Regions from separate parts of the Homo sapiens genome. Here region 2 is linked to region 1. The links come from fine-mapping of genetic effects on plasma protein levels. A gene starts in region 1. The other region holds a variant in brackets. All regions are shown on one strand. Distances are between the middles of the regions. Region 1 holds the start of IL22RA1 (interleukin 22 receptor subunit alpha 1). Region 2 overlaps IL22RA1 (interleukin 22 receptor subunit alpha 1).

Evidence for each region. PIP is the posterior inclusion probability: the model's chance that the variant is causal. The UK Biobank Pharma Proteomics Project read protein levels with antibody pairs (Olink). The fine-mapping took linkage between variants from a reference panel, not from the people measured, so its PIPs are less certain.
Region 2: its variant is fine-mapped to the plasma level of the IL22RA1 protein (UK Biobank, PIP above 0.99).

What each region holds. Positions count from the first base shown.
Region 1 is chr1:24,139,597-24,147,921 of GRCh38, forward strand. It overlaps IL22RA1 (interleukin 22 receptor subunit alpha 1), which reads right to left and starts at 3,544. Exons shown (of 7, transcript NM_021258.4): 1 at 3,444-3,544. The coding sequence starts at 3,486.
Region 2 is chr1:24,120,038-24,128,362 of GRCh38, forward strand. IL22RA1 (interleukin 22 receptor subunit alpha 1) reads right to left here. Exons shown (of 7, transcript NM_021258.4): 5 at 8,104-8,242; 6 at 3,265-3,386; 7 at 1-1,700. The coding sequence ends at 768. Among named protein-coding and RNA genes, the nearest start is that of MYOM3, 12 kb to the left of the region's middle. RefSeq lists a silencer at 402-696. The variant A/T (reference allele first, on the strand shown) is at 4,558.

The sequences.
Region 1 (8,325 bases):
GATCATGGCTCACTGCAGCCTCGACTTCCTGGGCTTAAGCAATCCTCGCACCTCAGCCTCCTGTGTAGCTGGGACTACAGACATGCACCACCACATCCGTCTAATTTATTTTTAAATTTTTTGTAGTGATGGGGTCTCATATATTGTCCAGGATGTTATGGCTGCACCATCTTAAATTCCCACCAGCATTGTTTGAGGGGTTCAGTTTCTCCACATCGCCATTGATGCTTGGTATTGTCTCTCATTCACTTTTTAACACAACCTGAAGTTGGTGTCCTCACCCTTATTTTAGAGATATGTAACTAAAGTGTGTAAGAAGTGACTTGCCCCAAGTTGATCAGATGAAGCAATGGTGGAGGAGGCGCTCTTGACTGAGCCCACACGTGGGCAGGGTGGCCTTGGGAAAGTTGTTTAAGCAACGAGAACTTCAATTGCCTCATCTCTAAAATGGATATAGTTTGATTTACCGAAAGACAAACAACAATGACAACAGCAGCCACTGGCATTTGTGAAGTGCACAGCCTCTTTCAGGCAAGTCCCTCCCTTCATTAAATCCTCACGACAACGTGCCCACTATCACTATCCCCATTTGATGAATGAGCTGAGGCTCAGAGAGAGCTGCCGCCCAGCATCACAGTTAGCATGTGAAGAACCTACAATATTCATCCCAGTGCTAGACTGGTTGTGGGGCGGATAGAGCGGGTTGGCGTCTGTGAATGTGTTTAGTGTCTAACAGGCCCCTATGTACATGTGTTGAGTCTGAAGGGAGGAGACCTGGGAAGGGAAGACATTCGCTCTGTAGGGAGGGGGCTATCTTGTTCACCCTTTTATATGAGGGTGGGGGGCTTCAGGGACCTGAGCACCTGATAAAGGGATGAATTTAGGGAGGAGGAGAAGAGAGAGGAGAAGAGAAGCTGGCCATTGAAGAGTCCACAGCCCTCTCTTCCAGGCTAGGTCTTTGTCCAGCCCACTTCTGCTTCTGTTAAGGGAAGGGCAGTGAGGGCCTGAGCCTCAAGGAAGGGGCTGGGGAGGGGCTGCAGCCTCTAAAGCAATCTGCACTGTAAACAAAGAGTCCTTAACTTATAAAACCCTTCCCTCAGGCCCCCAGGCTTGGGCTGTGGAGAGCAAGAGCCTGCGGGAAAATGGCGGCCCAAGCTGGCAGCTGGCTCGGAGCTCGGAGGCCCTGGCCGGCTGGCGTGGGAAATAAACAGGTGGGAAAATGTTAAGCAACCCCAGCTGGGTCAAGGCCTTGCGGCCTGGGTGTGTGTCTTGAATATGTCTGTGCCTCTCCTTCCCCAGACACGTCTACGACTGCCAGTGGGCCCAAGGTGTGAGGGAGCAGACAGTTATTGATTCCCCTACTCCAACTCTACACACAAGAGGGGTCCTCAGGCTTGGCGAGGACCGATGGGGACGGAAGAATGGTCCGACCCCGCTGCACATCCTCTGGCCAACCTCGAAGGCTGCCCTCCTCTCTGAATTTGGGTTCTGGCCCAGCAGCTGCAAAATGTCTTCAGGCTTCCTGGAGTCCCCAGAATGGGGCCTTAGGGATGGCGCGGGGAGGGGTCTACTGCCTCTACGCAAGGTGACGGCTGTGCCGTGGAGCCTTAGGATGTAGCTGACATCTTGTTTGGATGTGAGGCTGGGTGGAATTGGGGTCAGTTCTGGAGGGAGGGGTCCTGGATTCAGGGCTGAGTCTAAAGTTGAGGAAAGGAGTCCAGTCAAGGTCAGACCTGAACAGTGGCTTCTGGTTGGGTGGTGGGTCAGGGCAGAAGGGTGAGGGTGGGCTTTGAGAAGCCAGGCTCCATCAAGGCTTGGGGTAGAGTCTGCAGCGGGAACGGTTGCTGGTTGAGGTCAGTGTTCTGGGTGGGAAATAGAGGGCCCATCTGGGTTGCAAGGAGGCTGGTGGCTGAGGTGGGGGCATGTTGCCAAGGCAAAGGACCCTGGGCTACGTGGAGGTTGGCACCACTTTTCAGGAGGGAACTGCAGTTAGCTTCCTGAAGTGGGGTAAGTGAACCTAGGCCCACTCCTGTCTTTTAGGGATGTCAGGGTCTAACAAGATCTCCCCCTCTTCTCCCACCCTCCTCGCTCCTTTTCCTCCTCAAATCTATCATCCATTCCTCAGCCTGTGTTGCTTCGGCACTTCCCGGGTGAAAGTCTATATTGTGAAATCTGGGGAGACATGTGTTGTGTGGAGCCTGGCAGCCTGGCGGATTTATAAAAGGCAACTTGTTTTTTCACATTCATGTGGAAAAACAATGTTCTGTCAACCAGCTGGGAAGCTAAGGAAAAATACACAAACAAGAAACAATTCCACATGCTCTGGAGTCAGCCTAAGATTGGGGGGGTGAGGGCCCGGTGTGTGCAGCGCGAGGCAGCTGACCCTTGACAATCTCCTAAGGGCTATTTCTTGGGGTCCCCCATCTCAAAGGGCTGGGAGCCTCTAGGATTTCTAACCAGTATGGCTGAGGGTCTAAAGGGACGTGTCTTGGTGCCTCAAGGGGGTGCCTCACATCTTCCTGGAACGCCCAGCTTGATGCTGGGAAGCAGACTGGAGGGGGTCCCACAGAGCTGGAAGCCCTGGAGACGCAGGCAGCCCTGGCGGGACAGTGGCAGAGAAGGTGGGAAGCTCTGCCTTTTCGTGGGCCTCGTCCTGCACTTGAGCAAGGAGGGCCTGGCCGAGGCCATACCTGCTCGCCATCCTCAATCAGGACTATGCTTTGACTTCCTAAGGAAGTTCCCTGAATTTCATGCAATGCACCAGGAGAGCAGAGAGAGAGTCTAGGGTCTCATGTAACGTTCTCCATAATGATGAGCCCCCCACTCCGCTCACTTTATTGGCTTTGAACACTATGCCCTTAAGACCTGTTTCCAAATGAGTCCTGTGTCTTAAGACCTATTAATGTAGCAGACCTGGCCACTCTAGGAGAAAATGCTCTTTCAGATCTATGATAACAAAAGGGGCCAAAGAGGCCCTGCAGGGGCATGGAGGGAGGCAATAGTGAACTCAAGCTTCGTTTCCCCCGGTCCTTCCTCCTCCTCCCCTGTCAGGCCAGTGCCAAGTGAGAGGCAGAGGAAGGATGGTACAAACTGTGCCGACACCGTTTGAGGGACCGAAGGATGTCTGCCTCCTCCAGGCCAATTCTCCATTCACTGAGGTGCAGCGATCCAGCACCCCCAGTTCAGACAGCTGGCTATATCCCTCAAGACCCGAGGGTCCTTTGGGTCCCTGGAAGAACCCAGGGTCTGAGGCACCCTCTCATGCCCCCAGCAAACTAAGCTGGGCATTTGCTTCTCCGTGAACACCCGGCACCCTGCTCAGCCCTAGCAGGGGAGAAACTGAAACTGGCTATGCTCGGGCTGGGGAGGGTGCTGGGGAGATGACCCTGATCGTTGGCCCCTGGGATAAGGGAGGTCTGACCACAGGGTAGATGGGCACTCACCAGCCAGGGATCCCACAGTCAAGATGGTCAGCAGCGTCCTCATCGGGGCTGGCACAGAGCCCTCCCTTGGCCTCTACTCTGCCGTGCACAGAGAGAGGGCTGGGAGTCTTGGCGCCCTGGCAGCTGGCTCCACCCGGGCATGGGGCGGGGAGAAGGGGGTGGGTGGGACCTGTGCCGGTGGGGAGCAGGGGTACAAAGGTGTCCTGGCCCTGTGTGCTCTGGAATTCCAGGTTCTGGGCGGGATCTAAGGGAGTTCCCTTCCGACTTGCAGAAAACAGCAATAGTAACAGGCTGGCTTGTTTATCTGGTCCGGTGGCTGATTCATCCCAAGTGGTTTATCAAGGAGCTGAGGGGCAGAAAAGGCAAGAATAATCCACGATATGCAGCCTTATCAAAAAGCAATTTGGCACTGTGGATCAAAAGCCTACACCACATACATATCTTTTGCTTTAATAATTCTATTCCTAGGGGATTTACCCTGATGAAAATAACTGGACAACAGAGGGGGAAAAAAAAGGTCCCAGAATGTTTCTTGCAGCAAAGGAAAAGCTGTGACTCCTTTGCTTTTCTGGCAGGAGGAGATTGAGGGCACCCGATGCTCCTCCTTGATCCTCCATATCAAGGCAGGTCCCCACGCTTGGGGTGGGCTTGGGAACAGCTCTCCCCTAGAGAGGCCGTTGGGGGTGAGGAAGCCCAGCCGCTCTTACCTTGAGCCTTTGGGTCTAGGATCTGCAAAAGTTTAGAAAAAAAATGGAACTCAAACTTCAGTGATTCTTTCTGCTGTGCTAGAGATGGGGCTGAACTTCATGAATGGGGCTTTGGTTCGGGACGATGAAGATTCAGGCTGCTCTCCCATCATTTTGCCACGTAGGGCAGGATCTGCACATGAGCTTCGTGTGAATGAAGGGACAGGTGTTTAGGAAATGGTTTTCTCCTTCCTGCAGGGCCTGGAGAAGGTAGAAGGGCCCTGGGGCCTGGACTCTGGTCAGGGTGGACACGATTGGAGGGTCCTGCCCCTGGGGAGAGTTTGCCTGGCCCCAAGCACACAAAGGCAAGCGAAATTTTAGCAGGGATCCTGCCAACGGGTTGGGTGTAATGGGCTGTGATATGCTGAGATCGGTGTTTAAGTTTTTCTTTCCTGAATTGTAATTGTTATCAGCCCTGATTGCTAAAGTTTGTTTGACAAAACAGCCAAATCTAAGCTGTGCTTTGGAGGAATTAAGGTAGGGCCCATGCCAGTCATTTCCTGAAACTGCAGGAAACTACATTTTCTAGACTCCTTTATCAACTGCTTTCTGATAGGTTTAGCCCCTGGGGGAAGACTGGGGAGGCAGAGATCAGAGCATTTCTCCCCTCGTTTTCTGTTTGAGTGGCTTCCCCAGCAATGGCCATATCCCTCTGCAGTTCTGGCTCCCTCTGGACAGTCCATCAGCCAGGCAACCCCTTATGTCTTTCTTGTTCCTGTTTGGAGGCCAGCTCCTGGCTCTGGCAACACCTTCTCCCCTCATCTTTCCTTTCAGTTGGTGGGATGGCACAGCTTCCTGCTTTGGGGAAATCTCTGAACTGTCTGTCCTGATTAGTGTCCCAGCTCCTTCATCCTCTGGGTGACGAGCTCCTTTACATTAAAGTCCCTTGGTCTGAAAGACTGGAGAGGTTTCTGTGCTACTGAATGAACCATGATGGATAGAGGGTTTTTGATGACTTTGATGACAAGGCAGTGTGGGGAAGCTACAGCGAGAAAAACAGGTTACAAGGGACGCTTAGGGAGAAGAGCAGGCTTTGGTCCCAAGTGGCTGGCCGAGAGGACAAGACGCAGCCCCAACAGGTCTGTGGAACACGAAAGTGTTCCTTGGGGCCTCTCAGAAGCACTGGAAGAAGGAACTTGATGGAGGAAAAGGGCATCCTGTAGTTTCGAGGGCCTGTGGTTATGTAGGAATTAACGGGAAGGAAGACACCTGGATTGCTAAGGAATGTGGGAACACCCAGACTTCATTTCTAACAGTTTAAGAAAAAAATAGGTGGGGCGTGGTGGCTCATGCCTGTAATCTCGCACTTTGGGAGGCCAAGGTGGGCAGATCACCTGAGATCAGGAGTTCGAGACCAGCCTGGGCAGCATGGCGAAACCCTGTCTCTACTAAAAATACAAAAATTAGCCGGACATGGTGGCGGGCACCTGTAATCCCAGCTGCTCGGGAGGCTGAAGCAGGAGAATTGCTTGAGCCCAGGATGTGGAAGTTGCAGTGAACCGAGACCGCACCATTGCACTCCTGCCTGGGCGACAGAGCGAGACTCCGTCTCAAAAAAAAAAAAAAAAAAAAAAAAAAGGAGAAAAAAATGAAAACAACCTCCATGTCTGACAATAGAGGTTTGGTTAAAAGAATAATGGTATGTCCACCCAAAGCAAGACAAATGCAGCTTCCAAAATAATGCTGGAGAAAAATGTTTCGTGACCTGGTAAAGACTCATCATATTTTTTCAAGTGAAAAGAGGCATAACATAACCTATGTACAGTACCACCCTGGCTAAAACGCACACCTGCACACGCAGAGCAAACTGCGTGTCTTCATGGATATAGATGAAAACACTAGGGGCGTTATCTCTGGGTGGTAGTGGAATTGTAGGTGATTTTTCTTTTCTTCCCTTTGCTTATCTGCATTTCCTAAAGTTAATATAGGAAATACACTAATTTATATTAAGGGAAAGCAAGGTTACTAAACATAACAAATCGGCATTAAAGACAAGCCTTTGTTGGGGCTCTATCCTCCTCCTGGAATGCCATTTCCACTCCCTTAGCCAATTCCCTTTTCCTCGAATCTCACCAAGACAGTTTTCTTCTGCGATATGGCCCTTCTTGATAACTCCAGCCCATAACATCTCACTTTGAAAGTCCTTCCAGAGGCCAGGCACCGTGGCTCATGCCTGTAATCCCGGCATTTTGGAAGGCCAAGGAGGGAGTATCGCTTGAGTCCAGGAGTTTAAAGCCAGCCTGGGCAACATAGTGAGACACTGTCTCTATAAATAATAAAAAATTAGCCAGGTGTGGTGGCACATGCCTGTAGTCCCAGCTACTTGGGAGCCTGAGGCAGGGAATTGCTTGAGCCCAGGAGATCAAGGCTGCGGTGAGCCATGACTGCACCACAGCACTCAGCCTGGGCAACAGAGTGACACCTTGTCTCAAAAAACAAACGAACTTAAAAACAAAGTCCTTCCAGAATATGTGGTCTGGCCTGCATTTTGGCATTGTCCACTATGATACTTCAGCTGTGTTACATGTTCAAGAATGGAAAGGAGGCCAGGCGCCATGGCTCATGCCTGTAATTCCAGTACTTTGGGAGGCTGAGATGGGCTGATCACTTGAGGCCAAGAGTTCGAGACCAGCCTGGCCAACATGGTGAAACCTTGTCTCTACTAAAAATACAAAAATTAGCCAGGCATGATGATGCACACCTGTAGTCCCATCTTCTCGGGAGGCTGAGGCAGGAGAATCAGGAAGAATGAGGGAGAATCAGGAAGAATGAGGAAGAATCTGGAAGAATGAGGCAGGAGAAGCAGGGAGTCTAGGGTCCCTAGACTCCCGGCGGAGGTTGCAGTGAGCCAAGATCGTGCCACTGCACTCCAGCCTGGGCGACAGAATGAGTGAGACTCCATCTCAAAAACAAACAGGCCAGGCTCGGTGGCTCATGCCTGTAATCCTAGAACTTTGGGAGGCCGAGGTGGGCGCATTGCCTGAGGTCAGGAGTTCGAGACCAGCCTGGGCCACATGGCAAAACCCCGTCTCTACTAAAAAAACAAAAAAACAAAACAAAACAAAAAAGGCTGGGCATGGTGGCGAATGCCTATAATCTCAGTTACTCGGGAGGCTGAGGCAGGAGAATTGCTTGAATCTGGGAGGCGGAGGTTGCAGTGAGCCGAGACTGAGCCACTGCACTCTGGCCTGGGTGACAGAGCAAGACTCTGCCTCCAAACAAACAAACAAACAAAAGAATGAACAGGAGAGATTCGAGTTGGAGTGGAGGTGAAACATGAGCACCGTCTTCAAATATTTGAGGGGCTATTGCATGGAGAAGGCTCTAGACCTTTTTTGTATAACTACCTCTAAAAGGAAAACTAGGGTGGTCAGGGGGAGACATATTAGAGAGGCCATTTTTTCAATTTAAGGAAATCACTCTCGCTATGATGGTGTGGCTGCCTTGAGAGGTAGAAAGGTCTTGGCTGCTGGAGGTGTTCACAACGAAGCTGCCTTCAGTGGCAGAGGTTCCCCAGATAACCTCGTTCTCTGGGCTCCAAAGTTGGATGGTGCTCGTCAAGCATTCTGATTGCAAAGAGCCCGCTGGTATTCCTCTGTACCCTCCACATGGCTGAATGTAGAGCAGGTATCCAACATCGACTTACAGCGTTGACCTTCAGAGCAGCAGTTTCGCCTTGCTGATTCTCAGACCTCCAGGAAAAGCACTTGTTTTCTGACAAATTTCTCCAGTGCACCCATGCACTGTCTTGCCTCTGAGAATCCCTTTCCACCTCCACTTTCCTGTCTCACTCCGATTCATTCTTCAGGCCTCTGCTTAAATTCACTTCCACCAGGAAGCTTCCCCTGTGTGAGCTGCTCCCTTGGTTGGGTTGGGAACACCAGCTCTGTGTTCCCATCTCCTAGTATGCATTGCATGGTGCTTTCCCATTCCCCATGGCACTGACTACAGGGACAAGGCCTGGAGCTCGCTCTCCTGGGTATCTCAGTGTCTAGTAGGAGCTGGCACAGAGCAGGTACTTCGTAAGATTTGCTGAATGAATGAGTGTGCCGGAGAAAGCTGGCCAGGGCTTTAAGACTGTAGGGAACATCCCCAAGCTATAGAAAAAGCACATTTTACAATGAACTACTCGGGAA
Region 2 (8,325 bases), 20 kb before region 1:
ACCCGTCCAGGGGCCACAGCCCTCACCTTCCTTTCAAACCCCATTCTCAGGATAGGGTCTGAAACTCCTGCCTGCAGAAAAGGCTTGTGTGTCTCCCTCCCTGGTGGACCTGCATTTCGCTTTGTTCTATCAGAGGAATGAAGCTGAAATCGTGCAACGTCAGGCAGTTGCCCTGGCTGGGAATGAGCTGCAGGCCACACCCCTCCCTAGAGTCCTGCCGTCCTGCTGGCCCTGGCCTTGGCAGAAGTGCAGGTTGTTCTGGTTCTGCCCAGCCTCCTTCTGGTTCTTTTCCAGGCCTGGTTCTTTTCCAGGCTCTCTTCCCACCTTTGAACAATGACAGAAGAGGCAGGGGCCTCATGCTCTGTCGAGCTAGATTGTGAAACTGGCCAGGAATGGGGCAAGGAGAGGCAAATTCCCTGAGCACTTTGAATCCATGGTGTTAGGAGGTGGGGCTCTGGACCTCGGGAGTTTCCCTGCATTTCCTCCTTGCACTGTCATTTCTGCCTTGCAGGGCTCAGCGAGCACGCGCTTGTCTACACAAGCTGCTCCCCAGAGCTCCCCCGCTGCAGTCCTTATCATGCTGCTTTGCTCCGGTGAGGAGCGCACCCATGGCAGGGGCCCTGCATGCCACTCCCTCTGCTTCTCTCAAGGGCACCCGTCTGAGGCCAGATCGCAGAGTGTGTGGCGTGGGCAGGCATGGGATTGACAGCCAAGGATGTGACACTGGGTAGGGACAGGGAGGAAGCACCAAGCCTTTCCCATTCCCCTCAGGACTCCCACTGCACAGTCAGGGCCAGGCCTCTGAAAAGAGAATCCAGTTCTGTGGGCTGCTCCAGGTCTGAGGTCTCAGGGGCTGGGCTCTTGGCTTCATCCTTGGGACACACAAGGGACTCCAGCAGGCCCCAGGGACTTGGACCTTGGTCCGAGGGGGAACATGGACGGGAAGGAGGTTGCAAAGGGAGGGACATGGGGTGGCCCTCGATCTGGACTGAGGAGAGGAGGGGGAGCTGGCCCTTTAGGTACTGTGGTGTCCCTTCCTCCCCACTGTGTAGCACATTTGGGTCAGATGTTCTGTCTGTGCAAATCCCCAGGGGCTGGTGCAATGATTTTGCTTCTTGGGATTCCTCCATAGCCAAGGAGGTCACCTCCTGCAGAGAAAGGCCACCTAACATGCAGCTTCCAGCTGGTGGCTCTTTCTGAAGCTGACCTTTAGGCCTAAGGTGTTTAGGACTAGAAAGTGTCCCAGTGGGGGAGTCTTTGCCAGAACCTTCCATGCATACCCCATAGGAGGGAGGCCAGCTGTCCGGAGTGGCTTGAGGGGCATAGGAGGAAGGCTGGACCTTAGAGATGGCCTGTGGGGCGTAGAATGGGAATTGAGCTTCGGGGGTCACCTGAGGTGCATAGGATGGGGGCCCGACCTCAGGGGCAGCGTTTGGGGCATAGGACAGTGGGGAGAGGATCTGGGGAGGTGGCACGTTGGAGGGCTGGAGGATGGAGATGTCTGGCTGCCCTAAGTAGGTGATCTCGGACAGGCTATGCCGCTGTGGAGCTCCTGCGGGCTCCCTGGGTCCAGACACCCTGATCTGGGAGTACTGGACAGGCTGGGCCAGACTGCTGGGGCCGCTGAGGTCAAAGACAGGGATCAGGACGTGCTCCTGGATGAAGCGCAGCGGCTGGAAAGTCAGGACTCGCTGGACGTTCTGTGCAGGGACGACAACAGTCACCCCCCTGTGGTTAGGGTAAGTCCCAAGCTCCCTACTGGTGATGTGGGTGGGTGAGGTCCTCCATAGGGAGGCATCTGGGGGCTTTTTCAAGATGCGTCTGTCCCATATCCCCATCTGCTTCCCAGAGACTCCTCTAGGTGCAAGTGCCTCTCTGAAGGGACAGGGTCTCTCAGCTCTTTGGTTCTAAAGCCTGGGTTATCTCAGGGAGAGAGATCTGGGCTCTGGTTTCTCCAGGAGGCGGATAATCCAGGGAGTAGATGACCAGGATTTGGGGTTGCCTTGGGGCATGATCTCGAGGTGGTGGCCCGCATTGTTGCTTGGCCCACGGGTCCCTGAGGGCCTAATACAGGGTCAGGGTGGGAAAAGAAGGAGCCAGGAGAGACCGGGAGAGCTTTACAGAAAATGCTTCATCTGGACTTGCACATTGAGCAAAACTCCCTCAGAGCTCCTCTGTCCCTCCGATGGGCAAGAGCAGGCTCCGGGTGCCTCAGGTGGCTCAGCTCATGGCTTCTGCAGTGGCCTTGCTGCTCTAGCAGAGGCGGCACTGGCGTCAGGTGGGGGCTGCTGATGTGATTTGTGTGGCTGATGTAGGGCTTTCCATTTTATTTTTATTTTTTGGGTGGGGGGTGGTTTTATTTTTTGGGTGGGGGGTGGTTCTGGTCTTCACTTGCTACAGCAATTCTAAAAGAACTGTAACAAAGGGCTTTCCACTTAACAATTAGTTTTGCCATTTAAAAATTTCTGTTTAAAATGGCCAGGTGCAGTGGCTCACGCTTGTAATCCCAGCACTTTGGGAGGCCGAGGTGGGTAGATCACCTGAAGTCAGGAGTTTGAGACCAGCCTGGCCAACATGGTAAAACCCGTCTCTACTAAAAATACAAAAATTAGCCAGGTGTGGTGGTGGTGCATGCCTGTAATCCCAGCTACTTGGGAGGATGAGGCAGGAGAATCGCTTGAACTCGGGAGGTGGAGGTTGTGCTGAGACGAGATCATGCCACTGCACTCCAGCCTGGGTGACAGAGGGAGACTCCATCTCAAAAAAAAAAAAATCTGTTTAAAAAATTAGTTCTGAATATTTGAAAATTGGGAGATTCCACAATATAATCTGAAACTCTGGCTTCTCTTGAAAAACATGAAGATCAGGCAGTGCTGGGCCTGCATTCCCACATGGTGGTGCCCGGCTGCCCATTTAGACAGGGCATGAGTGCCACGGCTCTCCTGGCGCCCACCATTCCTCCCTCGTTGCCTTGCTGCTCACTCAAGTCCCACACTACCCTCCTGGTGCTGGACACTTCCAAGCCATGTGGGTTTTTTATTCCATGTCTACTATTCCTGATCACCCACCCCACTTCAATGTGTCCTGAGACCTGCTGGGCTACACGTCCGTTGACTTTAGCTGGGACTGTGAGCTCCGTGAATGGAGAGAGCAGGCCCATCTCCTGCTTTGTCTGTGGATCCCTGCATTTTGGGGACAACTGGGGACCTCGGAGCCCAGGCCCTCCCCTGGACCTCTCCCTCCCACCCTGGGGGGATGGCTCACCAGGGAGTTGGGAGGTGCAGGCGGCTTGGTGACATATCTGTAGCTCAGGTAGCAGAGTACTGCGACGAGGAAGCCCATGGAGAACAGGAAGGCTCCGGAGAAGGAGTAGGTCCATGTCCGGTCTGGGAAACCAAAGGGGCCAGAGAAGGAAGCGTGAGGCTGGGCTCTGCCTGGGCCCGGTTGGGTCTGGCCCCACATGTGGATGCTGAAAACCCTCTCTGGCTGGGCTGGCAAGGCCTCTCCTACCGTCAGAATGCAAGATCACAAATGGAAGTCCATATACTGTACATCTAAATAGTCAGAATTTACAAATTATATTTTTACACTGTTAAATAAATAAAATGTTCGAGGTTTCCACCTTAACAAAAAGATTTTTTACAACCACCTGGGATGCCATATTTTAATTCAGAGTTCTTGGACTTCTCTAGGTACTGTGCTGAAGTGGGGAGGTACAGGGAAAGCCCGCAGCGCACTGCAGGCCCCCAGCCCAGCCCAGCCCAGCCCAGTTCCATCCCACACTGCCAGGGCCCTCACGCACATGTGTATAGATGCCCCAGCCCTCATGGTCGAGCTCATCCATGTCCCCTCCAAATAGCCACCTGTTGGTCATCCTTTGGGCCAAGGGTCTGCACTACATGTCAGCAGTGTCTGCCCTCATGAGGAAGTACCCCCAAAAGAGGACTGCCTAGACGGATCACAGGCTCTGGGCCATATGTACAGAGAGTTTCAGGGTCCCAGGTACTCACAATGTGATCTAGAAAGGAGGTCACAGGATCCAGATGGATCTGCCCCCTTTGTTGTATGGAGTCTTCATCTTGCAAGGAGGGGAATGGCCAGGACAGGGCCAGAGAAGGGCCTTCTAAAGTGCTGGGTGCAGGGAAAGGCCCCTTTTGCCTGAGTCTAAGGGTGGTCCTGCCTCCCTGGTAGGGTAGAGGCAGAGGGAGGGGAGAAGTGAAAACAGGGAGGCCTGTCCTCTCCACCTCCCTACCAAGATAAGGGGCTGGGCATCAGGGAAGATCTTGGTCAAGAAGGGAGCCTGGGAAGGCACTGTCCTGTCTAAAATGGAGGGGAGAGGGATGACTAGGGCTCTAGTGCCTGAGCCTCTCCCTGTGTCTCAGCATCTTTGGGATGGGTGCAGCCAGTTCCAGGCAGGACACACTTCCTGTCACCAGTCCAAGTGGGGCTTGTGAAGGACTTATGGAGGAAGAGGTTGTTGGAGTTTTTGGTAAAACTGACAGTTTGCAACAGAGGGAAGGTGACTCAGAGAGTCAAGACCCCTGCAGTCCAGGGGCC[A/T]GCTAATCACCCTCCCTCTCTTCCTGGCCCCTGTGCAGCCTCAGCTTGGAGAGTTTATCAATAGCTCCAATGACCTCGGCGATCACTGTGAACTCCGGGTACTGCTGGAACCTCTACTTCTAGCCCACTCCTCGATCCTCCCCTAGCCCACGAGCTTGGGCCTCTCTGGGTCAGCTTCCCACTTCAGTGAAACCCTGTCTCCTGTCACATGTTACCCCCATCCCTACTCCAGGAAAAAGACCCCACCCGAATGTCTATAACATTCCTGGAAAACCACTGCTGTTTGTTCCAGGACAGAATAGGGACATGGAATGGTCTCTGGCTTGACATATTTCCATTTCACACTGTGTGTATTGGATACATTGCCATTTCACCCATAGGGAGGCTGGATGGAATATAAAAACACCACCAGCCTGAGAGTAAGGAATACAGGGTGTTAGAGGCCTGGCTCTGCCACAGATATGCTGAGCATCCTTCCTGCTGCACGACCCTCTCTGGTCTACCCTTTAATAATAACAGTAGCCAGCAGTGGTTGAACTCCTACTACAGGCCATGATCTGTATGATCATGTAGAGCTGGGTGCTCTACCTATGTTATCTCACTACATCATCAAACACATCACAGAGGGGTAGGGACGCTCCCTTCCTATGGATAACAAAGCTGAGTCCCAGAGAGGTTAAGTGACCTGACCAAGGTCACACAGCTACTCAGTGGAGTTACATGTGTAACTCAAAACTCATCCTCCCTGCCACTCTGCAAGGAAGCCTCAGTTTCCTCATCTGTAAGAGTAGGATATGAGGTGAGGTGGCCCTTAGAGCCTCTTCCGTCATCAAGATGCTGGGACAATGCTCTGTGACCCTCCCTGTTTATCTACGGAGAGGTAGGTAAAGGGGATTCTGAGGGTAATGCAGACGTCAGGATACACAGTCAAGGGCAGGATGCATCACTCTGAAATGGAAGTAGGAGGAAGAAGTGTGCAGTACAGGGGGCTCACTGTAAACAAAGTTGCAAAGTGGTGGGTAGAGCCCAGCCTTCAGAACCAGATGAATCAATCAGGTTCCCCAAGCAGCTGTGCGGTCACAGGGAAGTTGCTTAACCTCTCTGAGCCAGAGTTCCTCCTCTGTAAAACGAGGATGATGCTACCCAGCTTACAGGATTGTTGTAAAGATTAAATAATATATGTTACATGTAATAATAAAGATTAAATAATATATGTAAAGCATTTGGCACAACTATTTGCTTGGCAATATAGTAGAACCTAATAAATGTAGGAATTGTTTTAAATATATTTTTAAGGATAAGGTGCCTTCTATATGTCAGCAAGAAGTAGCCACCAGGAAGTGTGATTTATATAAAAGCTATAGTCTTAGGAAAAAATGGTATCTCATTATAAGCAAGACAAAGTAAGGCAACAGAAGGGTGTTGTGGGTAAGGGTGGAGTGGTCTTCACATTGTCAAAAAGCTGGTGGGCCAGGTCCCATGGGCCAGGAGCAGCTGAGATTTATCTAGGACAGTCCAGGGAAGGGGGTCATGAATCATACAAACACTCCCAGCTTAGCCCCAGAACGTCAGTTTCCTTTTTCTAGTTCTCCTCTTGCCAAGTTCTATTCTGAGCTCCCTAGCAGCCTTTGCCCCAGGAAGGGCATGCCCCATGCAAGTGGCCAGTGTTGGCTGTTCCGTGAGGCATAGCTCCCCTGCCAATTGGTGCACTGGGATTCAGGTGGAGAAATCAGTCTCTTGTGGGCTGTTTGGAAAAGTGATGAGTTTCCGAACAAACCTGAGGACCAGAGTGTCATTTTCTAGGGCCCAGCTCTGGCAGCTGCCTGGCCTCTGATTATCACCTCAGCCCAGGCATCAGCATCCCTATTTGTCAGATGAGGGATCAGGCTCCCAGAGGCTGAGTGACTCCCCCAGGCACGTGGTTGGCTGACATCTGACTAATACCGTGCCTTCTCATTCCTCACACGGTACTTCTCTTTCCACTATGCCACACACAATGTCCAGCTTGCAAACTCAACTCTATTCTGAATGTTGGCATGGTTGGAACTGAAATCACTTACTGACATCATGAATCTGAACATGAGGATAAAGTGGAGACTGTTTTACCAAATCTATCACATCCACTGCCGTCACCTTCATCCTCTAAACCTGCAGCTCTGAGCAATACAACGTTTCCCTCCGTCTATGAAAAGAAACACTAATAAAAACATCATGATGCTTGTGATGAGAATCAAGTTTCAGTGTGCTAGAGGAAGGGACCATCTCACTGAGCAGATGATTCAAAACTATATCTAGGCTGGGCGTGATGGCTCATGCCTGTAATCCCAGCATTTTGGGAGGCTGAGGTGGGTGGATCACTTGAGGCCAGGAGATCAAGACCAGCCTGAGCAACAGGATGAAACTCCGTCTCTACTAAAAATACAAAAAAAAAAAAAAAAAAATTAGCCAGGCATGGTGGCACACACCTGTAATCCCAGCTACTTGGGAGGCTGAGGTGGGAGAATTTCTTGAAACTGGGAAGCAGAAGTTGTAGTGAGCCGAGATTGTGCCACTGCACTCCAGCCTGAGTGACAGAGTAAGACTCTGTCTCAAAAACAAAAAACAATAAAAACCCACAAAAAACCCAACTGTATCTATAGTAGCTCTGTGGTAAGAGCATGGCCTCTAGAATTAGGCCTCATTCCATCCCTCAGCACCTGTGTGACCTTGGGCAAGTCACTTTTTTTTTTTTTTCCGAGACAAGGTCTCACTCTGTCATCCAGGCTGGAGTGCAGTGGTGCAAACATAGCTCTTTGCAGCTTCAACCTCCTGGGCTCAAGTGATCCTCTTGCCTCAGCCTTCTGTGTAGCTGGGACCACAGATGCACGCCACCATACCTAGCTAAGTTTTTGATTTTTTTGTGGAGATGGGGTTTTGCCCTGTTTCCCAGGCTGGTCTTAAACTTCTGGGCTCAAGTGATCCTCCTGCCTTGGCCTCCCAAAGTGTTTGGTTTACAGGTGTGAGCCACTGTGCCCGGCCATGGGCAAGTTACCTAACCACTCTGAACCTCAGGTTCTTCATCTGTAAAATGAGGATGAAAATAATACCTACCTCATAGACTGCTCATGAGGCTTGCCCTTGGTTGTGCCTGGTTCCCAGTTAGCACTGCAGAAATGCTAGTTATCATGATACCATTATTATTATTTGACTTTGGAAGATATTGAGGGATCTTTTTATCTTCTCTGCTTCCCCCCTGCAGATTTTCCCTCCAGTATATCTCACCTGGGTTAATATTAAGGTGAGTTTGCTTTGCCAAGGTACACATAAGGCCTGTCAGAGAGGGGAAATCCAGACATAGGCTGGAGGGTGAGAATCAAACATTTGCTTTGATAACTCATCAGCCAACTCTTTTATGGATAAACAAAGATTGACTTCAATAACACACTGATAACCCTTCCATGGTTTTCTAGAGTGTTGCCAAGTCTCACCTTGGTTACAGGGAGGAAAGAGAAGAGTCAAGACTTGAATTCGGGAGCCCCACCTCCCTCTGGTTTCAGCCGAACTCACCTGGCAGTGTCTTCACTCGGCACATGTAGGGGGCACTCTCCTTGGCCCAGGTGGGAACGCAAATCATGATGGTGCCAAGGAACTCTGTGTCAGGGGTCAGGCCGAAGAACTCATATTCTCTCTGCTTCCCTCCAAGGTGCTGAATTGGACAGAGAATGGAATGTGATTCCTGTTACACACCGATCTCCACATAGAGCCCAAGGAAGCTTGCTCGCTCCTCCT